Regions from separate parts of the Homo sapiens genome. Here all the other regions are reported to be linked to region 7. Evidence: microRNA targets listed by miRTarBase, many of them from high-throughput screens and not tested one by one. Region 7 holds a microRNA gene; each other region holds the end of a gene's coding sequence.
The links. Region 7 holds the annotated microRNA hsa-miR-4306 (UGGAGAGAAAGGCAGUA, at 2,521-2,537, shown strand). A microRNA usually pairs through its seed, bases 2 to 8, with sites in the 3' UTR of a target mRNA and lowers its output. Matches are read on the target gene's strand: a 7mer-m8 pairs with bases 2 to 8, a 7mer-A1 pairs with bases 2 to 7 and ends in A, and an 8mer does both.

Region 1 (4,212 bases), not on the chromosome of region 7:
AGACAGCAGATTGGAAATAACACTGGAGTGGATGGGATGTCCTCTTCCCTGAGGGGGCCGGGGTACCAGACGGGAGGCTGGGAGAGGATGAGAGGCTGCCCCATGGCTGGAGGCAGTGTCCGTGTGTGCAGTCACCATCATCAACCCCCATTCGGCCCCTTCCCCAGATGCGCTGGTGACAGGGGCTTCTTGGATGTCAAATCATGTTGTAGGAGGGTGCAGACTGCGGGCTTCTGTGGGGAGCAGTACTACTGTGTCTGTCGGCAGTGGCCATGGGACCCTCAGCCCGTCCTGTACATGGAGCAGGGTGCACAGTCACCCTCCATCCTGTGGCGAGAGGCTGGCCCGGCCCGGCCAGGCGAGGCAGAAGGTGTCGGCCAAGTGGCCCCGACCCCATCCCGCAGTCTCTCAGCTGCTTTTTATTACCTCTGTGCCCCATTTGGGAGTTTGCTTCCTCCACCTGGACACTTTGCCCGGGAGGTCATCAGAGCCCAACCCCAGGCTCTGCTCGGTTGGAGAGGGGATGACTTCACCACCACCTGACCTTCCTAGGGTCCTGGTCTCACTGTCAGCTGGGGGTCCGTTGTGTGTATTTGTACAGTTTTGCTGTATGGGGTTTGTCACCCAAAAGCTGATGCTGAGAAAGGCCTCCCTGGGGCCCCTCCCGCGGGCATCTGAGAGACCTGGTGTTCCAGTGTTTCTGGAAATGGGTCCCAGTGCCGCCGGCTGTGAAGCTCTCAGATCAATCACGGGAAGGGCCTGGCGGTGGTGGCCACCTGGAACCACCCTGTCCTGTCTGTTTACATTTCACTATCAGGTTTTCTCTGGGCATTACGATTTGTTCCCCTACAACAGTGACCTGTGCATTCTGCTGTGGCCTGCTGTGTCTGCAGGTGGCTCTCAGCGAGGTACGGGGAGGGCGTCACCCTGCAGAACGGCAGAGTGACGCGTCCTCTCGCTGCTGAGCACCAGCTGTTTACCTGCCCTGCATCACTTCCTCGGATACTTTACTCAATAAGCATTTCCCCTGGAGTGTCCGTGCCCTGGTGTTTTTTATCGATACGTTGATTAAAACGCGTGGTTCCCCGTGTGCCTGAAGCAGACATTGCTGTGAAATCTTTTATTTTTGTTTTATGACACAGCATCAATTTCATGAATACTTTGAAAGGGCCATTAGAAAAAATAAGAGCCAATTTGGGTCATTTGAGAAACATTTTCAGCACAATTACAGTGGGGGCACGGGCCGTTCGGCTCCAGCTGGGTTTTCCCAGATGCAACAATCGCGGTTCTGGCTTCTCCACTGGTGGGGATGGGGATCGCGCCTTCGGAGCTCTCAGGGCGCCTGTCTGTCGGGGGCTGGGTGCGTCCACAGCCCCGGGGGATGGCGCGTGGCGTAGCCCAGGAACGGCATGTGGGTGGGTCTCTGACCTGCTTGTGCAGGGACTTGAGGGACCTCATCCCGATGGCCGAGGCAGGGGCTCCCCACGGGATAAAAGGATCCGGCCTGGCCTTGGGGTCCAAGAGGAGGGCCAAGGGAGTGGACCTGGCCCCTGTCCCCTCTCCTCCTCGAAACACTGGACACCCTGAAGCGAGACTATGGCTGCTGAGGATCCTGTGTGATGTGGCCGCGGGGCGTCCCCTCTGGCCTCAGGGGAAGAAGGACTGGGCGGCTCGGCCCAGGTCACCCTCTAGGAAGCAGAGGAGGTGCAGGTGCCAGTTCAGGGCAGAAAGAAAGAGCCACTGAGGCCATTGTCCTGAAGGCGGTGACCCCCAGGCACTCCTGCTGCCCCCCAGGAAGCCCTGGGCTGCGCTGGACACCGGGCCGAGTCTCCGTCTTCTGGACCGAGGCTCTTCTGGGCTTTCAGGCTCAGCTCGTCGGTCCATTCAGCAAGTTCAGGGGCAGACTGAGCCCTGCTCTGGCCATGGCTCAGCCGGAAACAAGAGCTGCCATGTTCGTAGCACCTGAGTACCCCCGCCGGGGAGGTCTCTGTCATCTCATGTCCCCGCTGGGCAGGTGCCCCACAGCAGGGGAGCCCTGGGCTCTCTCTGTCCCAAGCTCCCAGCTGCATCCAACCTCAGCTCACAGTTGTGGATCACCCTGACCTTCCAGAGTGCCCCTCCCAAGGGGCAGACCCAGCATCCTGGAGTCCCCACCCCGAGCTGTGCTGAAGGACAGCTGGGGCGGTAGGGCCAGGACCAGACCAGGCCTCTGACAAAGTCTCATCGAAATGAAACCAATGTGCCCGGGCCACCTTAAGGGGCCCTGACCAGGAAAGTTAGGCCTGAAGCTGCCAATGCCAGATCCTCAGGGTGTTACCTGTGTCCTTACGTGGCTAGGCCTGACCCCAAGTGCCACAACCCCCAACTTGGGGAGGGCAGGGCCACCTGGTGGGGACGGGCCAGCCAGAGCCCTTGGTCTCAGCTGTGGCAGCCACATCCCTGGCCCGGCTTGGCCCTGAGGGCCTTTGGGACATCTCTGGGCAGAGGCATGAGGGAGGGGAGAGTCCAGTAGCCAAGTCCGGCAGAGCCAGTGGGGCAGGAACGCCCAGCAGAAGGAAGCTGGGCTTGGGGCAGCAGAGACGTGCCAAGCCACCAGGCCTGGCCATGAGGATGAAGCACCTGGGCGGGGGAAGGGACGTACCTGCCACCCCAAGGCTCCACCAGGCAGAGAGACCCAACGGGCTGCCAACTCAAACCAGAACCCAAGCACGTCATAATGTCCTACAGACAGCATGGTGCCAATTATATGATAACCCCACATCAGTGAGAATAAGTAACGGCGGTGGCAGGGGCTGGGTGGGGGGCACACTCGCTCCCCACACAGGCCAGGGCTGAGCAGGAGGCCTCAGAGCTGCTCTTGGGGAGCAACCCAGGGCCTTGGGGCTTCTCTCCCATGCCCAGAAGGGCTGCACCAGGAACACCCAGCCCTGTCTCCTGCTCCAGTTCCACAGCACCCCTCACACCCTGCCCCAGACCCTCCACAACCAGGCACAGCCTGGAGTCAACACATCCAGGAGCCCCAACTTGGGAGGAGGGAGGAAGAGACTCCAGCCCCTCCCCACCATTCAACTTTTAAGGATGAATTGGAGGTCATCTGATTAGAGTTTCTGGCAGCTCCAATCATCTCTGATTGGCCCCACTCCCCGAGCAGCCTTAGGCTCTGCCGGGCTTGTCCCGGGCCTCAGTTTACCCCAAATGAGGATGCTGAGCCCAGGCCCCATGTAGCCCTATAACAAAGGTTGGAGAGGGGGTCCTTGCTGGGGCTTTGGCCTTGGAAAACCTGCAGGTAAACCTTTTCCTGGGATCTCCCCTTGCCCAGAAGTCAGGGTGAAGAGACGTTAGTTCCAAGGCTAAGGAGGCCTTTCAACTCGGGCTGAGACTGCCTGGCTCAATGAAAAATCAGGATCCAACTGGGCCCTACCTAGAGGTTTGGGCCTCACGCCGCTGTCCAGGGCCACAGCCGCAACTAGGCCACTCGCTGGTCCCCAGCGGGGCAGGAAAAATTGCTCCAGGGAAGTGGCTGAATGTTCGGGGGAAAATGGAACCGCTGAGGCCGTGTCCTTGTGGGGTGTCACCGCCCATCTGGGGCTCGTGGCTTGGAGGGACTGGGGCTGGGAGGAGCAGGCCAGGCAGCTGCGGCCACCGCCACCCCCACCCAGGACTGGGCGCTAGGTGCCCTCTCGGAAGCTGTGGATCTGCGTGGAGTACCTCTGCAGGTGGCCCTGGGGCTGGGCCTCCGTGGCCCCCAACGCACCCCCAGCCACCTGCTGCTGCTGCTGGTAGTGCTGGTAGAGCTTGGGGCCCGGCCCCTCCAGGCCTGGGAGGCGGCTGCTGGACATGGTCAGGATGGTGGCCGTCAGCGATTTGATGTAGTTCTTGGCCAGCGTGAGCGTCTCGATCTTGGAGAGCTTCTTGTCCGCGCGCACGTGGGGGATGACTTCACGCAGGGCCTGGAAGGCGTTATTTAGCTTGTGCATCCGCTGCCGCTCCCTCTCGTTGCTCTCCAGCCGCCGCTGGATGCTGCTGTCACGACGGCCACCGGGCCCGGAGGGTCCTGGCCGCCTGCGCCTGCCCTCGCCCGGAGCCCTTGCTGCGGCCCGGGCCGGCCGGCTCCGCAGACCCTTGGCCGGCTCTGGCCCCGGGTTCGGCAGGGACCCGTCGGGCGTCCCCTCCCCGGGGGTGGCCTCTGTGTCCTGCACCGGGGCCCGGCGC
Region 2 (4,214 bases), not on the chromosome of region 7:
GGGGAACCATACGAATGGAAAATCAAATAGCAGGCTGGGAAATCACCCCAGGGTGGGGAGATGGAAGAAGAATGGAGACAGTGATAGTGAGGACTGGAGTGTAAATTCTAAGTGACAGCCTTTTCCAAGCCACTAAGGTCAGGATCCAAGGCCTGGAGTAGGGTAGGTGGTTCTGTACATATCACAAAAATTGCACCCACAACAGCAGGAAAAAAATTCCAAGACTGATATTGAGGCAGGTGTGCAAAACAAAAGCAGAGACAATCTGATTTAAGGAAAAGATTGATTTACTTTCAATTTTATTTTTAAATTTCAGATCCACCTAATGCCCTGAGCAGTTTTACTTCAGAACAAAGAGCAGGCCCCTTTACCTTTCAGAGCCTGCACACAAGGGAGCCTGAAGAACACACACATTCTGCACTCAGTGATACACCATAGCTGTAAAGGAAACTAATAAAGGCAAGCTGCATTGATCATGTGGCAAATGCTAGGCCCTGTGCAATGCACTTTTACAGGCATTTTCTCATTTAATCCTTCAATATTACTATGGCATTGTTACTATCTTCATTTCTCAGATGCGGAAACAAGTTACATAGCTCACTAAGATGACAAAATCTAGTAATTAGTGGGGCTGTAGGAAGATTTTTAATATTATAAAATCACTATTTTTCCCAGTTAAAGGACTGCTCAGATTTTCTCTTTTTCATGGCAGTTTTAGTAAGATATATTTCCTAGAAATTTAAATAGTTCATGTAAATGTTCAAATTTATTGACATTAATTTGGTCATAATTTTTTTAAATGTCTCTAGAATCTGAGAAGTATTCCTCTCTTCATTTTTGATATTATCTGTGCCTTCTTTCTTTCTCTTGGCCAATCCAGTCAGAAATTTATAAATTTCTTTTAGTCTTCAAAACTCAACTTCTTGATTTGTTGATCATTTCTATTGTAAGTTTGTTTCCTATTTTATTAATTTCTTTTATCTCTACTACAATTCCATATTATTTCCTGCAACCTCCACCTCCCAGGTTCAAGGGATTCTCCTGCCTCAGCCTCCTGAGTAGCTGGGATTACAGGCACGTGCCGCCATGCCCAGCTAATTTTTGTATTTTTAGTAGAGACGGGATTTCACCTTGTTGGCCAGGATGATCTCAATCTCCTGACCTCATGATCTGCCCACCTTGGCCTCCCAAAGTGCTGGGATTACAGGCCTGAGCCACCGTGCCCGGCCAGAGAACATTTTTTATAAGGATATTCAGAGGCAATATCCATCAGCTACATTAAAGCAATTTTTTAAAAAAGGTTACATGAGCAGTAACTAAGATCATATTGCTTTTCACTTCCCATTAAGACAATAAACTTAAAACTAGTTCAACTTTGCTTATTTTATTTTTTCATATGCTTCTAATTCCTGGAAGGCTTATGTTATCACTGATTTTATTGTGCCTGACAATATTTCAAGGATATAGGTTACATTTTGCTTTATTATATACACCTAAAGATATAATCACTTTGGGAAACAAACCTAAAAAACTGTTTCATTATAATTTTTAATTTACACATGCATAATATATCAGAAAAATACTGGATACTCTCTTTCAAGAAATTCCAACATACACAACTTGGTGTACATTTACTTAATCCTCTTAGTCATTAATTTAAGATTTACAGACAGGCTTGGTTTCTATACAAGAAACAATCAATGGTATGTAACTACGATAAAGTATTCAGGAGAAATGTGTTTCAGGGAAAGATAATTAACATTTAAGGTTTTTGTCTTTTCTGTTTTTTGTGTAATTTACAAGATCTGAAGGGCTTAACCACAGATGTGAATATAAATAAGGAAAAGTTATCATATGGAAAAATATAATTCTCAAATGCTGATGCCAAAAGTAGTGTTAAAATTTTGTCTTATGAAATTTGAGTCAGGGGAGAAGGGCCAGGGCCAGGGCCCACATATACCCAAATGGTCCAAGCACTAAAAAAAAGTGTGCATTTTCTTTAGATAATTCTACAGCTGGTATTCACTTGCTTGGAAGAAGTACAGTTCTAAGATGATAGCTTCACAAATAACACTGTCATTTATAAGACACAAAAATGTAATAAACCAATCAGACTCTATATAGCATGGCCATATGAATAAAGATAACAAACTGCCTTCTTGAAATGACTACAACTCAATACTAATGAAACTGTCTAGGGTCAATGGTCTTGTAGTTTGAGGTGTTATCTGAGCTCATTGTTTCACAACCAAGAAAATTAAGGAGGCTGGACACAAGGGTGAGGTTGGAGCAAAACTTTTATAAGCAAAAGAAAGAAAGCTCTCCACAGTGGAGAACGGACCCGAGTGAGCTGCTGTTTTTACAGTTGAATCCAAAAGCTTTTATGTGAAACTCCCCTCAACTCTGTAGCTGTTTGTGTAACTTCCCTTATCTATGAAGCTGTGTATGTAACTCTCCTTATCTTTGTATATCTTGGGTAAGCACAAAGTGCAGCTTCTCTTGTTTGTGTAACTGTGGGTCTGTTTTAGGCAAGCCCCTCACCTCCCTGTGCAAGTTCCCACAGAGCCCACCATGTAAATGCCTGAAAATGGGAGGAATTTTTTTCCTGAGAGCCTGCTAATCACACAAAGAACAAAGGCTCTATGCTGGGCCTTGCCTTCTTATCAGTGCAGGTGCAGTTTGGTTTTTCCCCAGGCTGCTCTATTTATGCCTGTAGCTGTGATTTTTTCAGGCTCTTTCTCAGAAGACTAGCCTTAGTGGTCTGCCTAACTGATTTTTCCTTTTCTTCTCCCTCACTATTTCAGCTTATTAAAAGGCAAGCATGTTGGCTTGTTTCTGGGTCTGCTTTGCGGATCTGCAGTTGTATTGTACCTGGCACAGAAGCTACAGCGTATGCTATTTGGGAGAGTGGGGAAGCACTTGCCTAGAAAATCAAGATGGTTGTGTTCCAATTCTGTTTTGGCCCCCAGTTAGTCCCCCTAAGTAAGACATCTTCTCAAGGTCCTTATTTCCTCATTAAAAACAATAAGTGAACTGGACTCGTTCTTTAAGTTCCATTCTAGAACTGTGATTCTAAGGTGACTTGCAGGTTCATCTAACAAGACATAACACTCATAGTCTGTTTATGTTAAGTCACTTTTGAGATATTTATTATTAGAAACCATCCAACATGAAATATGAATTATTAAAATGTTTTTCTCCATGTTTCAAACCAGAAACAGTAATTCAGAATGCAACTAGCATCCTAATTTTTAAAATCAAAATAAGATGACCAGATTAATAAAACTTAGCATTCACAGTATTCAATCTAGAAAAAATATAATTAATAGAATGTTAAAGCCAAAAGAACATTTGAAAGACAGAAAGAGAGAAGGGGAGGAGAGAAAGAGAGAGGGAAAAGAGAAAGCAAGAAAGAGGAGGAGGAGGAGGATTGAGAGATGGAGAGTTTGAGATTGAGACTTCTTATGAAATATATTTTAACGGCAATTACTCATTAACAACTGTGCATTGAGAATATTTGAACATGTTGTTAAAAGCTAGGGGAAAAATGTCAAAACACAGAACCAAAATGATTCTGTATTTCCTAAAGATATACTTTGAGAAACAGAAAAATTATTTCCCATTTCACTATCCCCCAGTACCAAAAGGGAGCATTTTATGATATGCACATCTGTATAATATTTTATAGAAAATAAATGCCAAGGTATTTACAATTTAATTTACTATTTCCTCTTCAATTTGTTTTTTATAGCAGACATATTAATTTCATTTTGAACATGATATGCCAAATATCCTGAGGTTCCAGGAATGAAGTCATGTAGCTCCCCAAGGAATTTCTTCATGGCATCAATTGATATATAACCTACAAAATAAAATTTAAAAAAAGATATATACTTAAAACCCGCTCATACTATTTGCTTTTCAGTGTCTTTGATTTATTAGAGTTAAGACTTCTAAAGAATGTTTTTAGAAAAGAAGTAAAAAGAAGAAATAATACCAGTGAGAAGATTCTCCATGAAACCTTATAATTATCCGGGAACACCTCCTCTTCCCCTCCCACAACTTTCTGCCACCTTTTAAAATATTAAAAGGTGGATTAAAGCTGCTTTGACTATTGAGATTGTGATGTCTAGGTTGGGGCTAGGACATAAAAGAACTTAGATAAAAATAACTGGGAAGTGTTTCTAGCTTAGACGGTAATCACTTAGAACTAT
Region 3 (4,238 bases), not on the chromosome of region 7:
AATGATATATCAGAGGCTTAGAGAAAAGGAGCATACTATTAAGTAGGAGGTGAGGAAAGGGTTCACAGAGAGGTTACTGAGCTGCATTCTGAATGATGAACAGGAGAGTTTTTTGGGAGATAAGTAGAGGGACATTCTAGACAAAGAGAACAGTATGTGTAGAGGCGCAGAGGTTCAGGTAGAAGCCAACAAAGGGCATGAGGTAGAGAACAACAGAGAAGAGCTTGGAGAGTTGAGCAGGCAGGGTCAAGGGGGACCTTGTGTATCGTGCTAAGGAGCTGGTTTCATGCTGAAGGAGTTGGTGAGATTTGCACTTAGATTGCTGTGAGTAAAGAATGAAGGCGTGCAGCCTGGGAGTGAGCGAAATGGGTAAAGAGGCACTAGTTCAGACGAGAGATAGAATGGCCCTAAGTTAGGGCCAGACCACCTGTACAACTGCATAGGGCCTTGCAGTTTGAAGGGCCTGGTGCTTGGTTAAATGCTCGTCAATCACTGTTTTTAAATTCTTAATACTATACTTTTTGAATAAGGGGCTCTGCTTTTTCATTTTGCACTGGGTCCCACAAATTATGGAGCCAGTCCTGGTTAGGGCAGTGGTTGTGGGAATGGAGGAATGATAAGGATCCATAGGTTGTTAGGAGGTCAAATAGGACTTATTTAGTGATTCATTGGATGAAGAGTTAGGAAGAAGGAGGAACTAGGATAACTTTCTGTTTTCCAGACAGATGGTGGTGCTCTTAATAAGATAGGAAATGTGGGAGGAGGAGCAGGCTTAGGGAAAGGGGTAAATAATGAATTCAGTTTTAAACTAGCAGACTTGAAGTACTTGTGGGGTCTGCTAGGATCCCAGACTCTCTAACCCCAATTTCTTCCAGTCCCTATCTCCTTCCCCACATGTGACCCAGCCCCTGCTTTTCTCTACCCACTCTTCTATAGGGCCTCTCTTGTCCCGCATCCTTCTGAATCCTCCCACCCCTTTTAAAGCTAGATTTACCTGGAAACAAACATGCAAACAAACACCAAAACACTCCTTATTGGGTTCCAATTCTGAACCCACAGTGAACACCCTCCTTTCAGCCTCACAGTTGACAAACCCAGGAGTCCCCCATTCCCCTCTCTTTCCTGTTTAACAGACATCATCCCAACTTCCCTCCTCCTTTCTTCTGCAAGACTGGGAAGTGGGTAGAGTGGGGGAAGTGAGCAGAGATGAAAGTCGGGAGGAACTCACATAGATTCTGGGTTTTGGTTTGGGCTTTTTTGTTTGAACTTCCTGCCTCTCAGTAGGGATAGAGGGGGTCAGGATTACTGGCTGCTCTTGGGAGTGTATGGTTGAACCACATTTTGGAGATAACGGAGAAACCATTTTCCTCACATACCATGTGAGAGACAGCTGAACAGTGTTTCCCTGTTCCACAGACCATTTAGGGGCCAGTTGAGAAGGTATTCCAGTATATCTGTAAATGGCACAGTCTCAGTTCTTCAGTCTTGGATACATGAGATCTTAATGAACCTTTGAAAGACTCAAGTCTCCTTATTTTGAAGACTGTGACACTGAGGTCCAGAGAGGGCAAGGACTGACTCAAGGTCACTATTTATGTGGGGCCAGAGCCTAGAGCTCAGATCCCCAGTCTCTGCCCCCCGTTTCTTCCTGTGCCTTGAGTCTCGCTGGCGTGGGTTTCCCACCAGACACACAAAAGCCTGGATTCTTTTCTTTGTCTGAGACTGAGTCTAGACCCATCTGCGTGGAATCTCGAAACACATTACAGGAGCGGCTTAGCCTCGGGCTTAGACTCCTTTTCCGGGTCGTTGGCGCCGCCTTGTGGAGTTGTGGCAAATTCTCAACAGCTGCAGCTGCAGTCCCAGACTTGGACTAGAAATGATCCCCCAGGCCAAGTTTACACGAGCTGGACGAGAGTGGGCGTGGGTGGGATGGGGAGCCTCTGCTCACTCTGCACAAGCCTCATATTTTGCCTCCCCCACCCCCGATTTCCGTTTCCCTCCTCCTTCTCGCTCCCTTTCCTCTTTCTGTGCCGGTCCCATACAGATACATTTAACGACAGAATTGCTCCCAAAACAGCGGGCAAAGACAGAGTCTGAGTCTAGGGGCGGAGGGCAGAACAAATTCAGACTTTATTGTCAGGGAGAGGAAAAAGGGGAGGACCGTGGGTGGGGGGCCTGGGTTGCTACATTGTCAAGCAGAAAGAGTTGATGGGAAGGGGAAGACCAGTGTAGGCCAGACCCCTCCCGGGTCGGCGGCTGAAGGGTTGACGATACGGAAACCACGGAGTCGGGGGTGGGGGAGAGGTGTCACACCCCCGCCCGAGTTGTGCAGTGGAGGTGACTGGTGGGAGGGGACAGCCATGAGGTCTAGGAACTTGGATCGGGGAGGCTACAGACTCGGCGAATCCTGCGAAGGGGAAGGGCGGGGGCGAGGCTTCTATTGCTTTTTGCTCACAGTTTTGCGGAAGGCGAGGCGGGGGTGGGCTTGGACTGGACACCCCTTGCCCCCCTCGGTACCCCTTGGGCGATGGGTGCTGGTGAAAAGAATGGAACCCGGACTAGGGAGGAAGAAGGCGAGGGAAAGGTCTATGGTGGCATCTCCTTGGTCCCACCCAAGTGCCGGAGATGCCCCCAAGTGCTGCCCCCTGCAATGGGCCCGGCTAGACCTGGGGCTAGGGCATGGTGCGGGGCGGGCACAGTGAGGTTGCAGGCGGTAAAACCAAAGTGCTTATGAGGGACCCAGGATCCCGCCTGCTCCCCTCCCCCTACGGAGGACGGGGGTGTTCACGGAAGCGCTTCAGTTTGGGGTAGGGAGCCGGAGTCCCAGAGTCCGCTTATTGCCAAGAAAATCCATTTCTGTCCCCCCCGGACCCCGACCATGGCTTGTGAACCCCGTTTTGTGCTAGGTTTGGGGGGAAGGGCTGGATGGACATGGCTTTTGGGAGGGGGGGTGTCTCCAAGGGGGCTCGGGGGTGAGACGGCCCCCCCTTTTCTAGGGGAGAGGGAAAGGCAGGGGGCGGGGTTCCCTGAGATCTGGGGTGTTCCCCCCCTTCTGAAGCCCCCCTCCCCCGCTACCCCTCCCCTTTCCTGGAACCCCGTATCTCGGGGTGGGGGGGGGGAAGGAGAGATCATTTAGGGAGTGCCGGGAGGAGGGGCGGGCTGGGAGCCCGGACGCCTGGGTCCCGGCTGGAGGTGGGGAGTTGAATGGGAGGGGTTCAGGGTTGAGGTCAGTACGGGGAGAAGAGGATGGGTCCGTGCGCAGTTCGGATGGGTCCGGGGGCCGGGTGAAGCAGAGGGTGAGTGATCGGCGGTCCCTGGAGAAGAGGTGCGGCTGGAGCCGGGCGCAGGGACAGCGGCGAGCCTGCTGCCGCTGCCATCACTGCAGCCACCGCCAGGGGGCTGGGGAGCAGGCCGCCCGCCAGGGACTTGGGCAGCTCCTTGGAGAAAGTCAGCGTGCCCTGAAGCGGGCGAAAGGCGGAGGAAGAGAAGTCACCCGGCGGTCCTGCAAACCCCACCTCTCCCTGGGCAAAGCCCGCGTCCCTCTCTCCTCCCCGCCCGCGCCCTCCCACTGCTGAATTCCCAGCATCCAGGCCTCACCGCCAGCTCCCCGGCGCCCCTAGACTTCTTGTGACGGCTCAGTAGTGGGTTGGGCTTCCCGGCCACGCCGTCTCGGTGCCGCCGGCTGGAGATGTGCTGCGGGGGCCAGTGGATAGGGGGCTGTGAGCTCCCGGAAAGGGGCAACAGCGAGGGAGTATAATCAAGCTCCAAGCACCGGCCCCCTCCCATCTGGCCCCCTGGGGAAAACTCTGAAGAAGGGCCTTTACTCAAGCTCCTTGCTCCCCTTCCCCACTTAGCGGGTGGAGCGTCCCAGAATTCCTGGGAAGGGCCTTAGACCCACCTGTTTCAGTTGGACCTCCGAGTTGACCTTGACATTGCAGATCTCACAGTGGAAAGTTCGGTCCTGGGCAGGAGCCTCTGGTTCCCCCGGGGTGGGAGGCCCCAGCCGAGGGTAAGCTTTGATGGGCCCGAGCCCACTTCGGGCCTCCAGAATTGTCTTGTGCTTAGTACCTGGAGCCCAGAGAGGGCAGGAGGTAAGGGGTGGAAGAAAAATTATCCAGGCCTACTGGGCCTCAGAATGCACATTCCCAGGTACAATATGAGGGGGAAGAGGGTGGGCACAGTGTGGGTTCTTTCTAACTAAGCTCCTTGGGACCCTCCCAAAGAGGTGGATCAGGAGA
Region 4 (4,000 bases), not on the chromosome of region 7:
AGCCACCGTGTTCGTCACTGTCCTGGATGTGAATGACAACCGGCCCATCTTTCTGCAGAGCAGCTATGAGGCCAGCGTCCCTGAGGACATCCCTGAAGGCCACAGCATCTTGCAGGCAGGTGGCCCGTGGCCTCTGGGGCAGGTGGTGGGCTGGGGGAGGCGGAGCCACACACGGCCCTGAGGGCACATGCTCAGTGGCACCAGAGGCGGAAGCAGGTGGGGGCCCAGGGTGGGTCCGCTGCTCTGGAAGGTGCTGTGGGGAAAGGGGGACCCAGGCCCTCTCCCATCCCAGGGAGTGTGGGCCCCCAGGTTGCAGAGCTGAGGATAGGGCTCTGGCTCCCCACAAACAGGAGGAAGACTTGGCCTCCCCCTGCATATCTCCCGCCCCACCCAGAAGGGCCTTTCAGAGTAGCGGGGAGAAAGAGACGTCACAATTTCCCGGAAAGGAGTTGAGAAGAGAGCCAGGGCCCAGCAAGGCCCAGAACAGAGCTGCTTTCACAGAGCCCTTGGCCGAGGCTCCCCTCTTGGGAAGTAAACAGGCACAAGAAGAAAGGGCTCCTTTGCCCAGGGAGCAGGCGCAACAGCTCCAAGGCTCAGAGGGAGAGAAGGGAGGACCCTGAAAACAATTTGGGTGTGCACCCACACCTCTGCCCAGAGGCCTCAGTTGCTGGGTGGGGAGGGAGGCCCGGAGTGAATGAGTCTCTTTACCAACTATGGGGTTTCCGACTCGGAGGCTGAGCCAAACAGGGAATCTGGGCCTGCCCACTGGGGCAGGCTCCCGGGCTTGGGAGGGACAGAAGCGTGGGAGGCTGGCAATGCTCCCCTCCCTGCATCGGGACCAGGAGGCGGGCAGGAAAGGGCTGGGGAGCAGGGAGCTGACTCCCAGAAACACAGAGAGCCCAGAAAGCCCTGAGGATTTGCGAGAGTGTGGTGGCTAGCTCCAGAAGGAGGAAGTAGAGGGTTCTCTCGATCAGGGCCTCAGCTTGTGAGGACTTGGAGCATACCCCCCTGGCCTGGTGCCTGAAACCCAATTGAGAGCCCTCCCCCTCCTGGACTTTTCCTTCTTCAGGCCTCAGGGCAGCCTCAACCCCCACCCCAACCTCCAGGAAGACAGTGCCTAGTGGCCAGCAGGGCCTGCTGGTGAGGTGGATGGCTACAGGCTGAATCCAGCCTAGGATTTGCAGGGAGGCCCCAGGGGAAGCAAACCAGGAAGAGGTTACTGAGCAGGAAGGGAGGAAGGAACAAAACCCTTAGGGAGGAGGCCTGCCCCACTTTCTAAACCCAAAGACTTGGTTTCTATTTACACAATACTACTCTTACTGAAATCCTAGAGCCAGCGAGTTAATATAGGGCAGCCCTGAGTTCTCCCATTTCTCAGGGAGAAATGCAGCGTCTCAGGATGACTTCTCCAAGGTCCTCTTGGTAAGTTTCTTGTGAAGCCGGACTCACTTTTTGAGATCAGATTGACTTGGAAGGAAGGGACAGTGGGCTTCTCCAATAGAGCCTGCTTGGAGAGAAATCTTTCTAGAGTCATCTGAGGGAAGATGAGGCTCTGTGTTATGCCAGCTTCCACCAAGACTCCTGCCTCAGAGGGTGGGGACACACCCAGGCTGGGCCACGCTTCACTCTGTACACAGAAGCCTCATACTTCTGTGCACAGAACTGGGGAGTCAAAGTGAGGGGCTGGACAATGTCTGGCTCTCTGCAAGCTCCCAAGCTGGTAGGAAAGAGAAGACATAGACAAAAAGGACCCATGCTGCCAAGAGAATGTTCCTTTTCCTCCCCAAGAGAGGTAGGAGACAGTAGGGGCGGCTCCAGGCAGGAGGGCTTCACAGAGTGGGTGTGTGTGAAGCATAAGCCACAGTTAGTGGGTGACAGGTCTTTCAGTTTTCCTGGAGTTTTGGATCAAGATGAGGCTAGAAAGATTAATTGGAGCCAGCTCCCAGAGGGCACTGCACACTGCGCTGAGGAGCTTTGGCTATATCCATTTGGCATTAGGGAGCCAGTGAAGGTTTTGGAGCTGGGGAGTGGCAAGCCAGAGCTCACTCCTTGGGGAGACGTGGCTGGCTGCACTGTGGGTCACAGCAGGATGGGGGTGGGGCAGCTTTGTGGTGGGATCCTGGCCAGCTGACTGGGACAGGAGCTGGGCAGCCCAGGTCCTCCCTCTGCCCACCCTTCAAATTTGGGACCTGACCAAAGTGTTTAACCCTCGCGTTGTGAGGAGAGGTCAAGGGTTTGGGATTCTGAGAAGCCCATCCTGGGGTGGGACTGCTTTGACGGGTCATCAGCAAAGCACTCACCAAAACCACAGATAGCATCCCTAGTGTGGGCAGGACTTGGGACCCCACAGCTGTCCTGGAGAGGTCCAGACCATCCCACCCTCGGGGAGGCTGCCGCTTTCCCTGGGTGAGGTGTGGAGCTGCTGTGAGCTGTCCTCCTCCGAGTCCAGGTGGCATCACCTCCAGCTGCTGGAAATGCCCTGCCTCTTGCCACTCTGTCACAGCACCCGCCCTGGCCTCTGAAGGGAGCCTCCTCGATCATCTTCAATCCCTTCCTGATTGATCCCAACGTGGGTGCCCTGAAGAGGGGCCACCAAGACGGCTGCCAAGACCATGCTTGGAGAGCCCTGTTTGCTCCTCCTCCCAGCTGGCACCCAGGCATCTGTTCCACCAGGAGGGAGGCAGCTGCTCCCACAGGGCACCAGGCAGATGCTGGCAGCACCCGGGAAACCCAAGGAAGAGAGCCCCGAGGTTTTGCCCCAGCACTGGGCCAGCACAGATGCCAGGACAGTGTCTTGGCCCCGGTGTAGGCTGAGCATTTCACTTGACTAAAGGGAACCTTTGCCATTTGGCAACTTCTCCATGCTGGGCTTTGGCACCTGGAGGGCAAGGCTTCTGTGGCGAGCGAGGGTGCTGCTTCTAGGAGGTGGTTACGAGCCCCAGGTTGTACCCTGTGGAGCCTCAGGCCAAAGGCCCAGATGACCACGAGTGCACATCTCTTGACCAGAAGTCTTTCATCAAGCAGCAGCGAGGGGGTCTGCAGAGAGGAAGGTGCTCTTCTGAGGATCATCTTTGGGAAAGGGCGCTGGCCTGGGCATGCAAGGAGCTTCGGGGGGTGAGTGTGTGTCCCAGACTGCTTGGGCCACTGTCTTCCTGCAGCCTGCAGCACCGGTCTCTGAAGCAGGAGGATCTACAGGTAGACCTAGGGGGATGTGGGGGCATGTTTGTGGACACCCCATTACATCTTGGTAGATTCCATGTAGTCACAGTGGCTGCGGTTGTCCTCGGGGCCCGGCAGGGGCTGTCGAGGGACGGTGGGCCGGCCATGGCGGAAGCTGTGCAGGGAGAGGCGCAAGGAGCCCAGGCGCTTCCAGAGCCGGAGCTGGGGCTCACTGGGGCTCCCAGGGTGGTGGGGCATGCACTCGTGAGCCCTGCGGCGGCTCGGGTCCAGCGCGGCCGGCTTGCAGAGCGTCATGAACAGCAGACAGGTGGCCAGCAGGAGGAAGATGCAGGCCAGGGCGATGAGCATGGGGAGGGGGTCAGTTGCCTCTGCAAGGGTCCCGGGAGTGACGGGAGCTGAGAGAAAGGCGAGGGGGCTGATGGCTGGGGAGCTGGCGAGGCTGGGGCCCTCTGTGCTCATGGCTCCTGCAACAGCAACAAGACAGAAGCTCAAAGGCAGATCAGCTGGACCCAGGGCAGCGGGTATAGGGAAGACTTACCTAGGGAATGTGGATGGGGGCAAGGCACTGTTAAACTGGACAGCATCATGGCCACATCACAGGTTAAGACAGCAAGGTCCAGAGACATCACAAGTCTAAGTGTACACACAGCTGAGCAGTGATGGAGCTGGGCCCAAGCTCAGGCCCTCTTCCTGTTCCACCCTGTGCCCATCTGCCATGCAGACAAGAGGGCGGTGGCCTGTCCGCATTTTCAAATCAATCCTCATGAATCATCACAGGGTCTTAGGCCTGGAAACTTAAGACCAACTCTGTCAATAACTT
Region 5 (4,229 bases), not on the chromosome of region 7:
ATCCTTAATTCTCAACGTCTTCTGCCCTACCTCATCTTCTGCCCGTTACTCTACATCCTTTATGTCAACACTACGCTTTACAATTTACCAAATACTTCCCTCCCGTTGATTCAACAAATGTTTATGCAGCACCTATTGTGTCCTACTAGGGATTTAATGGTCACAACTCTATATTCTCAAGTTCTTCCTTTGATTATTTATTTTTATAATTCTGTGAGGGTGGCAGGGTGGGTATTGTCCCCATTTTTACAGCTGAGCCAATAAGCTCAGTGTTTACATGATTTTCTCACGGTCACATATGTTTTAAGCACAGAACTGGAAGCTAGGATTCCTTATACCTAATGCCATATGTTATTACAACAGACTACTTGAAATTAATTCTATTTGACACTATTTTATTTGCTCTCACTCTTAAATTATCTTTAAGCTTTTTTTCATGTTATTTTCTGTCTTATGAAGCAGAAACTGTACCTTTTATTTCTTCCTGGTTTTAAGCAGATCAGGGGCAGGGGTACAGTCTGATAGTAACTGCTGTTAAAAAACAAAAACCATAACAACATAGATTATTCATGCAGCATGCAGAATTTACTCATGTTAAAAGGTTTCCTCCCATTTTTTCAAGCACGGCTGATACTCAGGACACAAGCAGCCTAGCTGTGTTGGGTGTTAAAACATTTAAATACTGTTGGAAAACCACCTCTCTTCTGAGCTTCCTGAGAAGTACTCCTCCAGCGCTGGCCTTGGACCCATACATCTCCCTTTGTGTCAACAGCTGGCACAGCACAGAATCCTGACCTAAAGCTACAGTCAGCTATACTGTCCCAACTACTGGTCAGTGCCTGTGCTTTCTCAGGAGATGATTTTATAAATCTTTTTTTTTTTCTTTGAGAGAGTTTCGCTCTTGTTGCCCAGGCTGGAGTGCAATGGCATGGTCTCAGGTCACTGCCACCTCCACCTCCCAGGTTCAAGTGATTCTCTTAACTCAGTCTCCCGAGTAACTGGGATTACAGGCATCCGCCACCATGCCTGGCTAATTTTCGTATTTTTAATAGAGACAGGATTTCACCATATTGGCCAGGCTGGTCTCGAACTCCTCACCTGGGGTGATCTGCCCATCTCAGCCCCCCAAAGTGCTGCGATTACAACTGTGAGCCACCGTGCCCAGCCTATAAATCATTACTTTTAAGAGACAGCATCTATCTAGCCCAAACTGGAGTACAGTGCCATGATCCTAGCTCACTGTAGTCTTGAACTCTTCCCGGACTCAAGGGAGCCTCCTGCCTCAGCCTCCTGAGTAGCTAGGACTACAGGCGTGCACCACCACACCCAGCTAATTTTAAAATTTTCTGTAGAGACAGGATCTTGCTACATTGCCCAGGCTGGCCTCGAACTCCTGGCTTCAAGTGATCTTCCCGCCTCGGCCTCCCAGAGTGCTGGGATAACAGGTGTGAGCCACCATACCCAACCAGGTGATATTTTTGATAACACTTCTGCTTTCAGAGAAGATTCTGGGGTGTAGTCAGGACATTACTATCTAGACTAAATATCTGTAGTATCAAATCCTATCTTTATATAACAGCACTGGCTTCTTGCCTACTGATGTAATTAGGGAGGTTACAGGGAAAACCCTTACTATTAAAATTGTATTTGCATCTTAGTGTGACTGCCCGACTTATTAGGTCATTTCCAATAAAACAGTTACCCGAGAGGATGGCTCTTCAGGAAGGGAGAATAAAAGGGAGAGGTAGATGGAGAGCATGAAGTACCTGGAGAAGTCAACCTCGAGGGCCTAGAGTGGGGTGCTAAGAGAGAAGGCATTAAAAATAGGTTTACGAAGATGCCCCCGTTTTTTTTATGAGATGAAGTCTTGCTCTGTTGCCCAGGCTGGAGTGCAGTGGCACGATCTTGGCTCACTGCAACTTCCGCCTCTGGGCTTCAAACAATTGTCCTGCCTCAGCCTCCCGAGTAGCTGGGATTACAGGCATGTGCCACCACACCCGGCTAATTTTTGTATTTTTAGTAGAGACGGGGTCTCATCATGTTGGTCAGGCTGGTCTCGAACTCCTGACCCCAAGTGATCCGCCCACAGCCTCCCAAAGTGCTGGGACTACAGGCATGAGCCACCATGCCTGGCTGGAAGACGCCTTTTTAAATATATATATTTTTTTGTCACTCTAATAAAGTCAGGAAGGTGCCTGTTAATTCCTTTGACCTATGTTGAAATTTGCACTCTTAATGTTACTGTTAAACCAAATAAGCCCTTTTCAACAGATATGAAGGACAGCATAAAAAAACCCAAAAATCTCATTTCACCATATTAATAAATGGGCTAACTGCCAGAACTTGGGAGTGAAGATGCTTAAATATTTTAAAATTTTTATTTGAATGAAATCATTGTAATAATCATTAAAGTGATTTGAAATAGAATGATCTCTGTGAAAGGAAGTTTATAGCATCACTATTTATAGGAGAGAAAGCAGCAGAGGTATGCATCTGGAAGTGAATATAACATTGTAAAATCAGCCCACATTAAATACCAAAAAAGTAAGAACCATCAAAATGCAGCATTATTTACAGGATTAAAAAGTGTGAACAGTACAGAGTTAAACTTTCTTATGTGTGAATTTTGACCTGCTATGTTGTTAGCAAAAAGCTTTAGTGTTTGTATAAAATGATGTGTACCCTTATCCCAACCACCACCAGATCAAGACACAAACTGACAATGATTCCTTCCTTATTTTACAGCTTTATTACTGATTTCCCTCTAAAAAGAGACTCAAGTGTGGAGCTGACTCATCTATAGATTAAGGAATCACAAAGTACCATAGTCACTTAACAAATGCAAAAAAAAAAAAAAGCAATTGTTTTACCTTTCAACTGCTGATGTTATGTACAATCTATCACAAAAAGCATAGCTGTGCATTCATGAGCTGATTATATCAACCTCTAGAATTTTAGAAACGAGCACATCTAAGCATATGGATACTCTCTTACCTTACAAAGTAAAAGCATTTTCTATTTTAAAATTTTTATTTCTGTGTAAAACAAAGAATTCCTAGAGGTCAAATAATATACCAAACTTAAAGCACTATTAAGTCATGAAACAAAGAAGATTCTGAGGTAGAAGTCAAGCAATATAATCCACAGTTTCAGGTATTCCCAGCAACCATCGCATTTCGCAAGTAAGATCTATTTTTTTTAAAGTCTCAACTTCCAAAAAATCAATAATCCATTCTGTAAAATCAGATGTAAAACTATGACCAACAGAAGACACCCAAACTTTTCTCATGGTAACAGAGTAAATGCTTTTACTAAAAGCTGCCAACATTTCTATCAGTAGTAACCGTAAGGAGGCCGCTGGTTGTAACCATAATGTCCATATTGCTGGGGATAGTAAGGTTCTTGTCTGTGTTGCGGGTAGTTGTTACCCCAGGATCGTCCATGCCACTGATTGGATCGATTGTCACTTGGCCACCCCCATCTGTTGTCCCTGCCTCTGAACTGTCTGTTGTCTTGCAACCTACAACAATAAAACAAAAAAGATCTTTAAACTTCCCTTGTTAAAAAAAACATATGACAAACCCATAGCAGTGCTTCTGGTTTCTCATTCTAATACACAATAAATAAGACTAAAAAACATTTTTCACAATAGAATGTTATAGTGCCAGTTATTCAAAACTTTCCTAAGATTGAAATCATTCTTCCAGTATTATACTAGGTACACTTTACAGAGACATAGGCAGACTATATAACCAATAGAATAGTTCCAAATTAAAGTGAAATCTATTCAATTGTACAAAAATGGTATGGTAATTTATTCCTTTGACTATTTTGAATTATTAAGTAAAAGTAACTTCCATTTGTAAACTTCTTCCTAAAGTAAAATCGAAACAATGTTTTCTTTATGGAATTGAACAAGCTGTAGAAAACTCTAGGTTTTTAAAGTAGATTTGCATTGAAAATATTAGTCTACAGAAAAAACATCTAAAAACAAAAAAACACACGCACTTGAACAGCAAGGAAAAAATACATGGTGCTGAAAAAATATTAAAGCAAATATTTATCAGAAATGATGTACCAGGTACTGTTATTAGGTACTAGGTATGCCATACCAAAAACACTGGTCCCTGCCCTCACTGGCCTTCCAGTCTAGCAGATTAAAGCTATCCTCTGCCAGATCAACTATCTGCATTTATTCTTTTGAATACACACCGATTGCCTCTGTTTCT
Region 6 (4,244 bases), not on the chromosome of region 7:
GGCAGGAGAATGGCGTGAACCCCGGAGGTGGAGCTTGCAGTGAGCCGAGATCATGCCACTGCACTCCAGCCTGGGCGACAGAGTGAGACTCTGTCTCAAAAAAAAAAAAAAAAAAAAGCCAGGTGTGGTGGAGTGCGCCTGTAATCCCAGCTACTTGGGAGGCTGAGGAGGGAGAATCCCTTGAAACTGGGAGGCAGAGGTTGCAGTGAGCCCGAGATCATGCGACTGCACTCCAGCCTGGGCGACAGAGTGAGACTCAGTCTCACAAAATACAAACAAAATCTTCAATAACAAGGAATGCAGTATTTTGAAAAACTGAAATTAACACCAAAATGTGTATGATGAACAAAAATTATTATTATTATTATTATTTTTGAGACGGAGTCTCACTCTGTTGTCCAGGCTGGAGTGCAGTGGCGCGATCTTGGCTCACTGCAACCTCTGCCTCCCGGGTTCAAGCGATTCTCCTGCCTCAGCTTCCCGAGTAGCTGGGATTACAGGCACGTGCCACCACGCCTGGCTAAGTTTTGTATTTTTTGTACAGACGGGGTTCCACCATGTTGGTCAGGCTGGTCGCGGACTCCTGACCTTGTGACCCGCCCTCCTCGGCCTCCCAAAGTGCTGGGATTACAGGCGTAAGCCACCGCGCCCCGCTCAAAAATTAAAATTTTTACTCGGCAGGGCACACTGGCCTGTAGTCCCAACACTTTGGGAAGCTGAGGCGAGCAGACTGCTTCAGCTCTGTTCAAATCCAGCCTGAACAACATGGAGAGAACCCTGTCTCTGAAAAATAAATAAATAAAAAGATCTTGGAAGGTGTCTGAGGCTCAATCAGGGTTCCAGGAGTCCCCCTGCAGCTCCTACCTGTCGTTCTCACTCATACAAAACACTAAGGAAAGTTACTAGATTTGCAGCTCACTCCTGCCCCCTGGTGGTGATCGGCTTGGGCACAACAGCATTCCAGGGGTTTTTATCCAATGCTTTTGCAAATGTTTCCTGAAGGTCCCCTTTCTGGCACTGTGTATGTTGCAAGAAAAAGTCCGTGCTCTGGTGGCACCCACAGTACATGGGAGGTGACAATACACAGGTCTGTGTGAAGAAAGGCATGTGAGGCAGGTTTGGTGGCTGAGCATGAGGGGAATTAAAGTAGGTCAAGGAGGGCCTCAGAGAAGTGGCATTGATCTGTGGTCTGAGTGACAAGCAGTCCCCTCAGAGATGATGTCCCCCAGGAGAGGTAGGCATAAGTCTACTGGATCGGAGGTATTTCATGTCTTAAACTGATGTGAACCTGGGTATTTATTGTACTTTGATCTTAGCTCACTGCAGCCTTGACCTCCCGGGCTCAAGCAATCCTCCTGCCTTAGCCTCCCAAGTATCTGTAACTACAGGTGCGCCCCACTGCGCCCAGCACTGTTTTTTTTTTTTGTTGTTGTTGTTGTTTTTGAGATAAGTCTTTGTCACCCAGGTTGGAGCGCAGTGGCGTGATCCTGGCTCACTGCAACCTCCACCTCTCAGGTTCAAGCAGTTCTCCTGCCTCAGCTTCCTGAGTAGCTGGGACTACAGGCACGTGCCACCATACCTGGCTAATTTTTGTGTTTTTAGTGCAGACTGGGTTTCACCATGTTAGCCAGGCTGGTCTTGAACTCCTGGGCTCAAGTGATCCTCCTGCCTCAGTCTCCCAAAGTGTTGGGATTACAGGTGTGAGCCACGCCTGGCCGTGCACTCTTCTTTAAGACTTTTCCTGTGGCAGAAATATTTTGTGACTTTTGAAGACGGCCAGCAAGTGCCAAGGTCCCCGTTCAGAGAATCTGAGTGCCAGGTGCCAGTTGTCTGAACCATTACCTCACTTGTCCCCCTCACTACGGCCTGAGGAGGGCACTAGCGCGACGACGTTAGCCCTAAGAGCAGGGACACTGAGGCTCAGCGCATCACCCAAAGCCACACGAAGAGAAATTTCAAGTGCTCAAGGGCCAGCATGGAGTTGGGGACAACAGGGCAGCGAGGCAACAGGCAGATGGTGCTGGGGGCCTGGTCAGTTGCAGGGAGGACTTCGGCTTCTGCTCCCAGGGAGGGGAGTCCTGCGAGGCTTTTGAGCAGAGGTGGGACATGCCCTGACCTGGGTGTTCACAGGTACCCTCTGGCTGCTGCCTGTTCAGGGGCTGACTTGTAGTGGGGAATGAGGAGGAGGCTGGGGCAGGAATTAGAGCCAGAGGCGATGGGGACCTGAAGGCCATAGGGACAAAAGGCAGTGGTCAGAATCAAGAATGTTTGGGGGGGTGGGGCCAAGTGCAGCGGCTCACACCTGTAATCCCAGCACTTTGGGAGGCCAAAGTGGGAGGATCACCTGAGGTCAGGAGTTCAAGACTAGTGTGGCCAATATGGTGAAACCCCATGTCTACTAAAAACACAAAAAATTAGCCGAGTGTGGTGGCGGGTGCCTATAATCCCAGCAGGAGGCTGAGGCAGGAGAATCACTTGAACCTGGGAGGTGGAGGTTGTAGTGATCCGAGATTCCACCACCGCACTCCAGCCTGGGTGATAGCTGGACTCTCAAAAAAAAAAAAAAAAAAAAATCTGTTTGGGGGCAGCGCTGGCCATAGGGTGGGGAGATATAGTCCATCCAGGATGCTGCTCCAAAAGGTTGTAGGAAGCTGGAAAGGTGTGGGGTGCGGGCAGGTGCGCCAGATCCACAAAACCCTAGGGAATGTGACTTGGTTTGCAGATCACTACTGCCCTCTGGTGGTGATCAGCTTGGGCCACCCTGCATTCTGGAGGTCCAAGTAGGGACAAGGGAGTGGGTGGGTGAGACTGAAGGTTGGGGGCTTTTGAGGCCTCTGGAAGAAGACTGTTCCAAGTTGTGGAACAGCATGTGTGAGGCGAGGACCCACGATGGCTGGTGGGCAAAGGACCAGAGAAGCACAGCTCAGCCCCCAATATCCCACCAAGTTTCCCTCCCACCTACAAGAGATGGGCTGCCTGAACGGCCCTCCCAGCAGCCCAGAGAGCATCTGAAATCTTTTATTGGAAGATCATTGCTGTTTGCCAAATAGAAGACACAGACAGCAGACGAACAGTGAAAACAGAGCCCAGTGACGAGAGCCGGCCCCTTGGCTGGGGACCCTCCCCAACTACCTGGTAGACCAGCCTGGTGACCTCTGCCCTTCCCCGGACCCCCGGGCCTTTGGCATAATGCTGATGGGGGGCTGCAGGCAGTGAAGCCCCTTGACTCAAAGCAGAGACTTGAATGGGCGCTGGAGAGTGGAGACAGTGGAGAGGCCAGGGAGGGCTGGGCGGGCCCCCCAGGCTGGGCCGAGCAGCGCAAGTAGAGGAAGTCAGGAGCGGGCGAGATGGCATCTATCTGTTTTCTGAAAAGGGGCACATAGGGGCCTGGAAGCAGGTGGCGGTGGTAGCTGGGGCAGGTCACACACTGACATCCTTCTCATCGCCCGTCTTGGGAACAGCTTCCAGTAATGGGTCCCCAGGACCTGCCTCCTCTCCCTCCTTGGCCTCGCTGGCCTTAGAGTTGGGGACCCAGAGGCCAGAGTCAATGCAGCGCTGCATGTGGTACTTTGCGTCCTGTGAGGAGAAGGCAGGCAGATGAGGTGGGGCCGCCAGCCGGTGGTCCCCGTTGTCCCCGTTGTCCCTTGCACATCCCCAAGCTGGCTTCCTGCCTATTGATATTTTACCTATTTGAGACGGAGTCTCACTCTGTCACCCAGGCTGGAGTGCAGTGGTGCAATCTCGGTTCACTGCAACCTCCACCTCCCAGGTTCAAGTGATTCTCCTGCCTCAGCCTCCCAAGTAGCTGGGGTTACCGACGCCTGTCACCATGCCTGGCTAATTTTACTTTTAGTAGAGATGGGGTTTTGCCATGTTGGCCAGGCTGGTCTTGAACTCCTGCCCTTAGGTGATCTGCCTGCCTTGGCCTCCCAAAGCACTGAGATTACAGGCGTGAGCCACCGTACCCAGCTGGAAATTTAAATTTTATTTAACTTTAATTTAAATTTAGATAGTGCAATCTAGAACAAAAGCCAGCAAATTTTTTTTTGGTAAAGGGACAGACTAAATATTTCTGGTTCCGTGAGCCATATGGTCTCCATCACGACTCAACTCTGCTGTGGTAGAGCAAGATCGGTTGTAGATGATAGGGAAACAATTGAGTGTGGCTTCTTTGTTCTAATAAAACTTTATTATAAAGACAGGCAGTGAGTCTGGGAGCTGCGGTTTGCAGAACCTGGTCTAGA
Region 7 (4,244 bases):
CTAGCAGAGCTTGCCACAGTATATCCAAAACATTGCTGTATTACAGACGCAACATGGTTTAAAAGGAAAAATTGAGTGTGGGTTTCAAGTTGACACATGATAAAAGTAGCCCTGAAGTGTTCAATTAGAAACTGAAGGCCTGGATCTGATAACTTCATGGGCAGTGCCCCTGCTCTTTTGTCTTACGACCAATAGGATTTTGACTGCTCAGGAAATTTGTATGCATGTACCCAGATATAGACCTAGGCACCTAAATGCACACGTGGATATATACGAATATATGGTGGACAGTGCAGATCCAAGCTACTCCTGCTAACACATTTCTGGAAAACATTCCCTTTATGGGAGGACTTAACAAAAAAATTAGTAGCTAGTTTTACTTTGGTTTACATATATTGTTTTTCTAATATAGAATTCTCATTAGTTGGTTTTATGAATCATATCACCAAATGAAAATTTGAAAAGTATGTAACAGTTTTCTATTGAGCGTTCTCTGAATATTCTTGCCTTCAGTCCTGCTGGGAGCCTTTTCTCAGATCACCAGTGCAAGCCTACAGTCATACATTGTTTGTAGTTGATACAACCTCAATGATATAAGTTTTTTGATGATTTTAAAATATGAGTAATTAATCATTTATAACCTATAGGTTAAAATGAATTATAAGTGGATGAAGGTGGGAACCCAAATGAATCAAAGCTATTTAAGTTTGGTATTGACATTGTGCATCTTCCCATTATTTATTATACCAAAAAAATCACTTTATTTCTTAAAAATAGTACAACACGGCCAGGTGCAGTGGCTCACGCCTGTAATCCCAGCACTTTGGGAGGCCGAGGTGGGTGGATCACGAGGTCAGGAGATCAAGACCATCCTGGCTAACACAGTGAAACCCCGTCTCTACTAGAAGTACAGAAAATTAGCCGGGCACGGTGGCAGGCACCTGTAATCTCAGCACTTTTGGGAAGCCAAGGTGGGCGGATCATGAGGTCAGGAGATCAAGACCATCCTGGCTAGCACGGTGAAACCCCATCTCTACTAAAAATACAAAAAAAAAAAAAATTAGCCAGGCATGGCAGCGTGCACCTGTAGTCCCAGCTACTTGGGAGGCTGAGGCAGGAGAATGGCGTGAACCCGGGAGGTGGAGCTTGCAGTGAGCTGAGATCGCACCACTGCACTCCAGCCTGGGTGACAGAGCGAGACTCCATCTTTAAAAAAAAAATAGTCCAACACAAGAAGGAAAGAAGGTACAGAAATGGAAAGTTAAGAATGAATCAGTGGAGTAAAACATTTCTGAGATTGGTGCATTTTCCTTTTGGAAATGTCATTCAAACCATATGAAATTAAATTTGGAAATAATGTTCTGCAGTCTCTTGAATGGGATTTAAAATATGACAATGCAGAAAACACATATGGGGATGAAAACCCATAGGACATGTCTCAAGGAGGACAGACACCCTGGGGAAGAACACTTGTGAGGGTACCAGGCTCTCAGACACAAGGAAAGAGGAATCTGAGGGATTGCTGGGAAGGATTCTCATCTTATGACCCCAGCTGTGGGTAGATTTGGCTGGGGAGCCCATTCTCATTGCAGGGGGCGGTGGCCTCAGCCCTGTGCATGCTGACTCTTCAGTGCTGTGCTCTGGCTGAGGCGTGCCTCTAGTGAGGGTGACCCTGGGCACCGAGCATATTCAGTCACCATCAGCCAAAGCTGGTTGTAGGAGGGCTGGCGGTGGTCTTGGGAATGTTGCTTGAATCCATCTTGGGGTGAAAATCAGAGTATTGGCTCATTTCTATTTTTTATGATTATTGTTATTATTATTATTATTATTGAGACAGGATCTTGCCCTGTTGCCCAGGCTGGAGTGCAGTGGCACGATCACAGCTCACTGCAGGTCACAGCTCCCAGGCTCAAGCAATCCTCCCACCTCAGCTTCCCGAGTAGCTAAGACTTCAGGTGTGTGCCACCTGGCCTGGCTCATTTTTTAATTTATTTTTGTAGAGATGAGGTCTCCCCATGTTGTCCAGGCTGGTCTCAAACTCCTGGGTTCAGGTGATCCTTCTGCCTCATTCTTCCCAAGTGCTGGGGTTACAGGCATGAGCCACCATGCCCAGCCTCTCCTTCCTGCCTGCCTGCTTCCCTCCCTCCCTCCCTTCCTCCGTTGCTCTTTTATTTTCTTTCCTTTTTTTTCCTGTTGCTCAGGCTGGAGTGCAGTAGTGCAATCTTGGCTCACTGCAGCCTTAACCTCCCAGGCTCAAACCATCCTCCCACCTCAGCCTCCCAACTAGCTACAGCTACAGGCATACACCACCACGCCTGGCTAATTTTTTATTTTTTGTAGAGCCAAGGTCTTACTATGTTGCGCAGGCTGCTCTCATTTCTAATACACTGAGCTCAACTGCTTGCTGGGTGAGGCCTGCATGAGGACTTTACTCATGGGCTCATAGAAGCCCTTTTAAGCTGCTTAGTGTCCTTAGAGTCTCCAGAGGCATCCCTAACCCAGAATCTTTTGACTGTCCTCTGGAGAGAAAGGCAGTAGGTCTGTACCAAGACCAAGGGGCTTGAAGGCTTGGACGCTCTGCTTCCACCTGCCTCTGGAGTGGCCAGAAGTAATGCCTGTTCTCATGACCAGCCAGTTTGCCTCACTGCTCCGGTGCCAAAGGCCAAGTTTTGATTGGAATGATGTCTGTATATTCTGAATAACCAGGAATTTTGTTTTTCTGATTTACAGATCTTCAGGCTTTTCATCAGCATGATTTGCCATCTCTGTCTTTGTCATCTAGGGTCTGTAATTATCCTCAGGTTTTCTGCCAATACCTGCATTTTCAACCAGTTAGAAAAAGAAGAGCTAAAACAGGTAGAAGCCTGAAACCAAGGGGCATATGCATTTCTGAAACATTTTCAAGAAATTGTCTCAATTTTATATTTCTGTTTATAATTATAATTTCAATGTCCAGTGGAGGAAGTTGTGAGACTCAATGTCAGTAGCTACCACTTACTATTCTGTGCGCCTCGGTTCAGATTGTTTGGGGCAGTGGTGTTTTATGTTGTGGGTCCAAACCCATGAGTCATCTGGGAAGTTAATTTATTAGGTCACAATGAGCGTTTTAAAAAATGAACCATAGGCCCGGCGCAGTGGCTCACGCCTGTAATCCCAGCACTTTGGGAGGCTGAGGCAGGTGGAGCATGAGGTCAGGAGTTGCAGACCAGCCTGACCAACATGGTGAAACCCCGTCTCCACTAAAAATACAAAAATTAACTGGGAGTGGTGGCGGCGCCTGTAATCCCAACTTTTCGGGAGGCTGAGGCAGGAGAATCGCTTGAACCCAGGAGGCGGAGGTTGCAGTGAATCCAGACTGCGCCATTGCACTCCAGCCTGGGCGACAGAACAAGACTCTGTCTCAAAAAAAAAAAAAAAAAAAAAAGAACTGTAACATAATAGGAAATATTCAATTCTGAGCCCATCACACATTTTGTCTTATGAAACTTTTGGTTTTTTATATGTGGTGTATGTATGTATATGTGGTGTATGTATGTATATGTGGTGTATGTATGTATATGTGGTGTATGTATGTACATGTGTATGTATGTATATGTGGTGTATGTGTATATGTGGTGTATGTATATGTGGTGTATGTATGTATATGTGGTGTATGTATGTATATATGGTGTATGTATGCATGTGCAAGCTCTCACTATAAATACACTTCTTCCTGTGGGTTGCAGTAAAAAAAAATTTGAAAACTGTTACCTTAAGACTATTTATTTTAAAAATTTTAATAGGTACATAGTGTATATATTTATGGGGTACATGAAATGTTTTGATATAGGTATACAATGTGTAATAATCACATCAAGGTAAATAGGGTATCTCTGACCTCAAGCATTTGTCATTTCTTTGTGTTTCAAACATTCCAGTTATACTCTTGTAGTTATTTTTAAATATATAATAAATTATTGTTGACTGTAGTTATCCTGTTGTACTATCAAATACTAGAACTTACTTCTTTCTATCTCACTGGATTTTTGTACTCATTAACCATCCCCAGTTTCCTTCCTCTACCCCACTACCCTTCCCAGCCCCTGATAACCAATATTCTAGTCTCTGTCCCCATGATTTCAATTGTTTTAACTTTCAGCTCCCACAAGTGAGTGAGAACAGTTGAAGTTTGTCTTTCTGTGCCTGACTTATTTCACTTAACATAATGTCCTCCAGTTCCATCCATATTGTTGCAAATGGCAGGA

Region 1: the mRNA of BHLHA15 is a reported target of hsa-miR-4306. Seed matches in the 3' UTR shown: 7mer-A1 at 3,241-3,247.
Region 2: the mRNA of TERB2 is a reported target of hsa-miR-4306. Seed matches in the 3' UTR shown: 7mer-A1 at 3,439-3,445 and 7mer-m8 at 3,378-3,384.
Region 3: the mRNA of ZNF385A is a reported target of hsa-miR-4306. Seed matches in the 3' UTR shown: 7mer-m8 at 3,122-3,128.
Region 4: miRTarBase lists C10orf105 as a target of hsa-miR-4306. Seed matches in the 3' UTR shown: 7mer-A1 at 2,618-2,624, 7mer-A1 at 2,357-2,363, 8mer at 1,510-1,517 and 7mer-m8 at 600-606.
Region 5: miRTarBase lists RAMAC as a target of hsa-miR-4306. Seed matches in the 3' UTR shown: 7mer-m8 at 2,468-2,474.
Region 6: miRTarBase lists CDC37 as a target of hsa-miR-4306. Seed matches in the 3' UTR shown: 7mer-A1 at 3,269-3,275 and 7mer-A1 at 3,253-3,259.

What each region holds. Positions count from the first base shown.
Region 1 is chr7:98,212,336-98,216,547 of GRCh38, reverse strand. It overlaps BHLHA15 (basic helix-loop-helix family member a15), which reads right to left. Exons shown (of 2, transcript NM_177455.4): 2 at 1,091-4,212. The coding sequence ends at 3,669. It overlaps TECPR1 (tectonin beta-propeller repeat containing 1), which reads left to right. Exons shown (of 26, transcript NM_015395.3): 26 at 1-1,924. Among named protein-coding and RNA genes, the nearest start is that of BHLHA15, 3.0 kb to the right of the region's middle.
Region 2 is chr15:44,978,137-44,982,350 of GRCh38, reverse strand. It overlaps TERB2 (telomere repeat binding bouquet formation protein 2), which reads right to left. Exons shown (of 7, transcript NM_152448.3): 7 at 3,122-3,862. The coding sequence ends at 3,723. Among named protein-coding and RNA genes, the nearest start is that of TERB2, 24 kb to the right of the region's middle. RefSeq lists a silencer at 2,073-2,273.
Region 3 is chr12:54,367,029-54,371,266 of GRCh38, forward strand. It overlaps ZNF385A (zinc finger protein 385A), which reads right to left. Exons shown (of 7, transcript NM_015481.3): 5 at 3,899-4,068; 6 at 3,598-3,693; 7 at 2,108-3,458. The coding sequence ends at 3,228. The region is part of intron 1 of GPR84-AS1 (GPR84, ZNF385A, ITGA5 and GTSF1 antisense RNA 1); the gene reads left to right. Among named protein-coding and RNA genes, the nearest start is that of GPR84, 4.7 kb to the left of the region's middle.
Region 4 is chr10:71,712,699-71,716,698 of GRCh38, forward strand. It overlaps C10orf105 (chromosome 10 open reading frame 105), which reads right to left. Exons shown (of 2, transcript NM_001164375.3): 2 at 1-3,644. The coding sequence starts at 3,639. The coding sequence ends at 3,238. CDH23 (cadherin related 23) reads left to right here. Exons shown (of 70, transcript NM_022124.6): 28 at 1-115. Among named protein-coding and RNA genes, the nearest start is that of C10orf105, 5.1 kb to the right of the region's middle.
Region 5 is chr15:82,989,172-82,993,400 of GRCh38, reverse strand. RAMAC (RNA guanine-7 methyltransferase activating subunit) reads right to left here. Exons shown (of 4, transcript NM_031452.4): 3 at 4,213-4,229; 4 at 2,344-3,520. The coding sequence ends at 3,334. It also overlaps a transcript of C15orf40 not described here. Among named protein-coding and RNA genes, the nearest start is that of RAMAC, 5.1 kb to the right of the region's middle.
Region 6 is chr19:10,388,131-10,392,374 of GRCh38, forward strand. CDC37 (cell division cycle 37, HSP90 cochaperone) reads right to left here. Exons shown (of 8, transcript NM_007065.4): 8 at 3,003-3,576. The coding sequence ends at 3,421. Among named protein-coding and RNA genes, the nearest start is that of TYK2, 9.7 kb to the left of the region's middle. RefSeq lists enhancers at 625-1,125, 705-764.
Region 7 is chr13:99,640,603-99,644,846 of GRCh38, forward strand. MIR4306 (microRNA 4306) reads left to right here and starts at 2,457; the gene lies at 2,457-2,547. The region is part of intron 1 of CLYBL (citramalyl-CoA lyase); the gene reads left to right.